Linked DNA regions of Homo sapiens. The protein of the gene in region 1 purifies or fractionates together with the protein of each later gene. This does not show direct contact. Each region holds a gene or a part of one and is shown in the gene's direction. Other genes may lie near its edges.

Region 1 (3,500 bases):
GTCCTAGCTACTCTGGAGTCCTAGCTGCTCTAGAGGCTGAAAAAGGAGAATTGCCTGAGTCTGAAAGGTGGAGTTTGCGGTGAGCCAAGATCGCACCTCTGTCTCCAGCCTGGGCGATACAGTCAGAGTCTGTCTCAAAAAAAAAAAAAAGTGATACCAGTGCAGATCGAAGCTACCATTACAAACTAAATGACCCTTAGGTCACTATTTTCCGTATCTGCAAAATGAGGTGAATACACCTTACACACCTAAGAATGCTGCAAAACTCCTCTCTGGCAGGGAAAAAAACCTTTTGAGTTACTCTAATATAAGGCTCAGAGAATATAATTAAGGTGTTAAGGTTAGGAGATTTATTTTTAAAGATAAAATATAATCTGTCATGAAGAATTTACATTTTGAAGATGAGAGTTCATTTGAATTGATTTTGGAGCATAATGAAGTGAAATCTAGGCTCCAAGGCTAGTCTCAAAATCGAATGCCCAACGGTGTGGGGTTTTTAATTTTTTTTTCTGTTTTTGTTTGTTTGTTTGTTTTTGTTTTTAGACAGAGTCTCACTCTGTTGCCCAGGCTGGAGTGCAGTGGCACGATCTTGGCTCACGGCAATCTCTGCCTCCCGGTTTCAAGCTATTCTCCTGCCTCAGCCTCCCGAGGAGGTGGGATTAAAGGCACACGCCAACACACCCAGCTAAATTTTGTATTTTTGGTAGAGATGGGGTTTCACCATGTTGGCGAGGCTGGTCTCAAACTCCTGACCTCAGGTGATCCATTCTCCTTGGCTTCCCAAAGTGTTAGGATTACAGGCATGAGCCACCGCGCCCGGACAGGTGTGGATTTTAAGAGAACTTAGTCTGTGGTTCTCAGCCTTGGCTGAAGAGAAGACTTATGCACAGAGCTTCTAAACAATATCAGTTCAGAGAGCCCCCTCCCAGAGATTGACTGGGGAAGAGCACGGTGTTTTTGAAAGCTCTGTATGGGCCTCTCCTGTACAGCCTGGGCTGGGGCGAAGTGGGCCAGAGGGTTGGTGAACTGGAGAACCATGCTCATCTAGAAGCGGTTGCCATGTTAACTGCCTGGTAAGAAGGTAGGCTCAGCATTTCCAGATCTTCATACACTTAAAGTGAAACCAGAAATCCAGATCTTTAGGTAAAATCCTCTGTTTTAACACTGTAGGTTAAACAGAGTCCGTTTATGGGCACGCCTGGCCCATGGGGAACTGATTTGTGACCTCCATCCCAAAGTGCCCTTTCTGCTGTCTGTAAAAGGAACATCTGGATTTTACCTGATCATAACGAAGAATAAACACTTGCATTTCAGCTTATGGAAGAAGAACCAGTGTCAGATTTCGCAGTTCAGGAATGACTTTAGACAATATCAGTCGGGCAGCTGTGGATCGAATAATCCGGGTGGATCATGCAGGCGAATATGGAGCAAACCGCATCTATGCCGGGCAGATGGCTGTCCTGGGTCGGACCAGCGTCGGGCCAGTCATTCAGGTGGGTGCTTCTTCATCTCCCTCACCCTGGTCTACTGAATGGGCAGATCCAAAGGACTTCAAGTAATGAATCATGGGAGGTCAAGCGTTCCCTAGGGAGATGCCATTGTCTCCAGGAGAGCGAAGGTTGGTTCTTGGTGGAGATGGGGAGCAAAAAGCATATTGTTCTTTTTATGGATAAAGCACAGAGAGACATCTAGTACATAGACAGGTATGCGGTATATCTTTGGTATCAGTACTCCATGGCGGGGGCAGGCAGTAATGAAAAAAGGTTAAGAATCGCTCAGCACAGCAGTCAACTGTGCTGAAATGTTGCAGCCCTGCCCCCTACCGTGCCAGAGAGGTATTGTATCCCAAGAGGCTATGGGAGGACCTGAAATTTGTAGTTACACAGACCTGGTTCACATTTTGGCTCTCTCCCACCTCCTACCTGTGCGACCTTGAGGATGGCACAGGACTTCTCTGGGTTTCCATTTCCGTATCTGCAAAATGGCCTCATAATGGCCTGGGTTTGGGTAAGGAACCGGGTCTGGCCCATAAAGGTCAAGTTAGTACAAGTTAAATGGCCTGCCCTGAACCCTTGGGCAAGCTACTTAGCCTCTCTGTGCTTCAGTTTGTTGTGTATACTGGCGCAGTCATAGTGTGTCCTTCACAGGGATTGTGTGGATTGAATGAATTGCTTGCATGAAGCTATTTGATGGCCCCTGGCACTTAGGACGTGCCATCTAAGTGTTAGCTGCAGCTAGCATTCTCCCTTTTTCCTCTGATGTAAATAATATTCAGGGCCGGGTGTGGTGGCTCACGCCTGTAATCCCAGCACTTTGGGAGGCCGAGGCCAATGGATCGCTTGAGCCCAGGAGTTTGAGACCAGCTTGGGCAATGTGATGAGACTCCGTCTCTACGAAAAATACAAAAATTAGCTGGGTGCAATGGCTCACACCTGTAATCCCAGCACTTTGGGAAGCTGTGGCGGGTGGATCACCTGAGGTTAGGAGTTTGAGATCAGCCTGGCCAACAAGGCAAAACCCTGTCTCTACTAAAAATACAAAACAAATCAGCCAGGCATGGTGGTGCATGCCTGTAGTCCCAGCTGCTTGGGAGGCTGAGGCAAGAGAATCACTTGAACCTGGGAGGCAGAGGTTGCAGGGAGCTGAGATCGCACCACTGCACTCCAGCCTGGGCAACAGAGTGAGACTCCGTCTCAAAAAAACAAAAAAAACCGCACACACACCACAAAATTAGCCAGGTGTAGTGGCATGTGACTGTAATCCCAGCTAATTTGAGAGGCCGAGGTGGGAGGATCGCTTGATCCTGGAGGTTGAGGCTGCGGTGAGCCATGAGCTTGCTACTGCACTACAGTCTGGGTGACAGAGTGAGACCCTGTCTGGAAACAAACAAACCACAACAACAACAAGATGATGCTATTCTAGTAATCTGGAAGGAAATTACACAACAGCCAATGTTCTGCCTTCCTGATTTTGAAATGGGTTAAACATGTCATTTCTTATGTGTGTAGACCCTTGTCATTTACTGGGCACATTGTGGGCCTGAGAGACTTCTGCTGCAACCATGGCTCATGGCAGTCTTAACTGGAATTGAGATAATAGACTGTTTTGTATTCTTGGTGCTCTCTTCTCTTTGTCACAGATTCCTTTAGTCTGATGTTTTACTGTTTCCATTGACGTTTTGAGGGGAATGGGGGAGACAGCAGTTCCATCATTTTCTCCGTTTCTGCTTTGCTCCCTGTATGCCGCTTGGATGAGTGGGAGGCCTCTATGGAATGCTTGCATGTCTTTATTTTTATGTTTCTTGCAGAAAATGTGGGATCAAGAAAAGGACCATTTGAAAAAGTTCAATGAGTTGATGGTTACGTTCAGGGTCCGGCCAACAGTTCTGATGCCCTTGTGGAACGTGCTGGGGTTTGCACTGGGTACGTGTCTCTCTAGAAGAGCTTATGCAAGCTTGGGGATCTAGGATGATTAAATCCTTCAGGTATCATGTTCACAAT
Region 2 (3,500 bases), on another chromosome or scaffold:
TTATCCTCTGGAAAGTGCCCCCTACCATCTTGGCGATTGTCACTGTCAGTTAAGAACCCAGGCCCAAGCCAGATCTTATCATTTGGGCAGCCGTTGGCATAGCTGCGACTCGAATGACTAGATAGGTTGGGCATGTTAGGCAGCTTTGGTCACCTGACACTCAAAGATTTCAGTTTGACGGTTGGGGGTAGTACTGGCCGGCTTGTTTTTCATTTGTCAAGACGATTGCTGCCCAAGTTCACAAGCAAATGCCACTCAGGTTCTTTTGTGTGTGCTGTGTTGATTTAGTCTCACCCCCTGCTCTGCATTTTTCGATTACTAGCATTGTCACATCCCTTACCTCATTGTACCCACCCAAAGGGGAATCCCTTTGGTATTATTATTTGTTTGTTTGTTTTAGAGGTGGTCTTGCTCTGTTGCCCGGGCTGGAGTACAGTGCATGATCATAGCTCACTACAGCATTGAACTTGTGGGCTCAAGCGATCCTCCTGCCTCAGGTTCCTGGGTAGCTAGGACCATAAGCACGAGCCACCATGCCCAGCTACTCTTTTTATTTTTTTTTGTAGAGACAGGGTCTTCCTATGCTGCCCAGGCTGACTTTGGTGTTTCTGAGATATGAAATAAATGCTCAGTTGGGGTGATTTTTATTTCAAAGGCATCCTTTATCAGTGAAAATATTATCTGTCTATAAATATACATAATATATGTTTGCCTCTGTATTTCTGGAAGGATATACATAAAACTATTAGTAGTCATTGCTTTAGTATTTCTTATTTTAAGTGAAACTCCCTAGTCAGTATTTTTAGACACTTTTTATTATATCCCTTTCTTAATTGTTCATAATTGTTATTCCTAAGCTTTTACAATTTATTTAACAAAAAAAATTGTAGACACAATTTCTGTTTAATGAACTTAAAATCTAAAATAAACACAGAAATTGGCTGGGCACAGTGGCTCACACCTATAATTCCAGCACTTTGGGAGGCCGAGGCAGGTGGATCACCTGAGGTCAGGGGTTCAAGACCAGCCTGGCCAACATGGTGAAAACCCACCTCTACTAAAAATACAAAAATTAGATGGGTGTGGTGGTGGGTGCCGCTAGTCTCAACTGCTTAGGAGGCTGAGGCAGGAGAATCACTTGAACCCAGGAGGCGGAGGTTGCAGTGAGCTGAGATTGTGCCACTATTGCCCTCCAGCCTGGGCAACAGAGCAAGACTCTGTCTCAAAAAAAAAAAAGAACATACAGAAATTACATAGTCCCATAAACAAATCTTAAAACTTTCTACTTTGTGTATCACTAATTTTATATGGTTGCCTTAAAGTAATGCGTAAGTTTCTTTTTTCTTTTTCTTTTTTTTTTTTTTTGAGACAGAGTTTCACTCTTGTTGCCCAGGCTGGAGTGTAGTGGCGTGATCTCGGCCCACTACACCCTGCACCTCCCGGGTTCAAGCGATTCTCCTGCCTCAGCCTCCTGAGTAGCTGGGATTACAGGCATGCGCCACCATGCCTGGCTAATTTTATATTTTTAGTAGAGACGGGGTTTCTGCATGTTGGTCAGTCTGGTTTCCCGACCTCAGGTGATCCACCCGCCTCCTTGGCCTCCCAAAGTGCTGGGATTACAAGCATGAGCCACTGTGCCCAGCCCATGATATTATTAAACAGATATCCCTAAATGTAGTGTACGTAAAACACTTCAAACTAATTGACAAAATGTGCTTTCATTTTTATTGGAATATGGCTGGGTGTGGTGGTTCACGCCTATAATCCCAGGACTTTGGGAAGCTGAGGCAGGCAGGTCACTTGAGCTCAGAAATTCAAGACCAACCTGGGCAGCATGGTGAAACCCTGTCTCTACAAAAAAATACAAAAATTAGTTGGATGTGGTGCTGGGCACCTGTAGTCCCAGCTACTTGGGAGGGGTTGAGACAGGAGGATAGCTTGAACCCGGGAGGTCGAGGCTACAGTGAGCCAAGATCACGCCACTGCACTCCAGCCTGAGTGACAAAGTGAGACCCTGTCTCAAAGAAAAAAAAAATACAGAAGAGAAAAGCACAATATAGACATTATATGGAGAAAGCTGTGTGTCTTTCCCCTCTATCCCTTTAAACCATTTTCTCAGGGAAACCACCATTAATGCTTTCTTAATTTTTAGGAATTTTTATATATAGTAAACACAAATTGGAAGCATCTTCAACTTACATCTGCAAATGCCACTTAATACTATATGTTTTTATCTTTCAAGAAAAATTGCATTTACTGGTATTGTTATTTTGCTTGTTTAAAGTGAGTTTGCTTCTTTTTAATCTTTGAAGGATGTGAAAACGTGCTTTTATATTTCTTTATAATTATTTATAGAGCACATTTTATTTTTAATTTATTTTATTTTATTTTATTATTATTACTTTTTTTGAGATTGAGTCTTGCTGTGTAGCCCAGGCTGGAGTGCAGTGGCACGACTTGGCTCACTGCAATCTCCACCTCCTGGGTTCAAGCGATTCTCCTACCTCAGCCTCCTGAGTAGCTGGGATCACAGGCGTGTGCCACCACACCCAGCTATTTTTTTTTTTTTTTGTAGTGTTAGTAGAGACAAGATTTCACCATGTTGGCCAGGCTGGTCTTGAACTCCTGACCTCAGGTGATCCACCTGCCTCGGCCTCCCAGAGAGCTGGGATTTAGAAGCGTGAGCCACCACTCCCGGCCAATATATTTGTATTTGTAAGTTCACATCATTCAAAAATCTTTATATCTGGTTTCTACCTATTTGAGACAATATCCTATGAATTGGTTTTTAAATTAAAAGAACATCATATTGGGGAGAAGATTGCTCTGTAATGTTTGTTCAAGAAAGCAGCAAACTAGGCTGAGTGCGGCAGCTCACCCTTGCAATCTCAGCACTCTGGGAGGCTGAGGCTGGCGGATCACTTAAGGCCAGGAATTCGAGACCAACCTGGCCAACATGATGAAACCCTGTCCCTACTAAAAATACAAAGATTAGCCGGATGTGGTGGCATGCACCTGTAGTCCCAGATAGTCAGGAGGCTGAGGTGGGAGAATTGCTGGAACCTGGGAGGCAGAGGTTGCAGTGAGCCGAGATTGCACTACTGCACTCCAGCAAGTGCAATGAGACCCTGCCTCAAAAATAAATAAATAAAGCAGCAAACTGATTTTTTAAGCAAAAAAAAAGAAAGAAAGAAAGAAAGAAAAAGGCTGCCAGTATCATGTGAAATTTAGAGCCCTACTTCTAAAATACCGTTGCTGCATAAGAATAGGAATTTCTATTATTGTAGTATGAAATCCATGTGTTCATTTCATGAAGTACTGGGGAATTTGCTCTCATGAGAGTTTTTCTTGTCCCTTGTTTAAATTCCTGGTCCCCCTTTTTAATACCTGGAGTTGCTCTTTCTTTTCCTCTTAATGTTTACCTGGTGGTATCTGGGTGCTTAAGCAAGTCTACCAAGCAGATTAGAAATACTATTGTAGAAGGCTGGGCGCAGTGGCTC

Evidence for each region. The genes of interacting proteins can lie anywhere in the genome.
Region 2: the proteins of COQ7 (region 1) and NIPSNAP2 purify together in Homo sapiens (co-immunoprecipitation; one large-scale study listed by IntAct). This does not show direct contact.

The regions. Positions count from the first base shown.
Region 1 is NC_000016.10:19,070,614-19,074,113, forward strand, and holds part of COQ7 (NADPH-dependent 3-demethoxyubiquinone 3-hydroxylase, mitochondrial), read left to right. Parts: intron 1-1,314; coding exon 1,315-1,493; intron 1,494-3,307; coding exon 3,308-3,422; exon of another isoform or gene 3,423-3,484; intron 3,485-3,500. UniProt on the Homo sapiens protein: Catalyzes the hydroxylation of the 5-methoxy-2-methyl-3-(all-trans-polyprenyl)benzoquinone at the C6 position and participates in the biosynthesis of ubiquinone.
Region 2 is NC_000007.14:55,971,085-55,974,584, forward strand, and holds part of NIPSNAP2 (protein NipSnap homolog 2), read left to right. Parts: intron 1-3,500. UniProt on the Homo sapiens protein: Protein involved in mitophagy by facilitating recruitment of the autophagy machinery required for clearance of damaged mitochondria.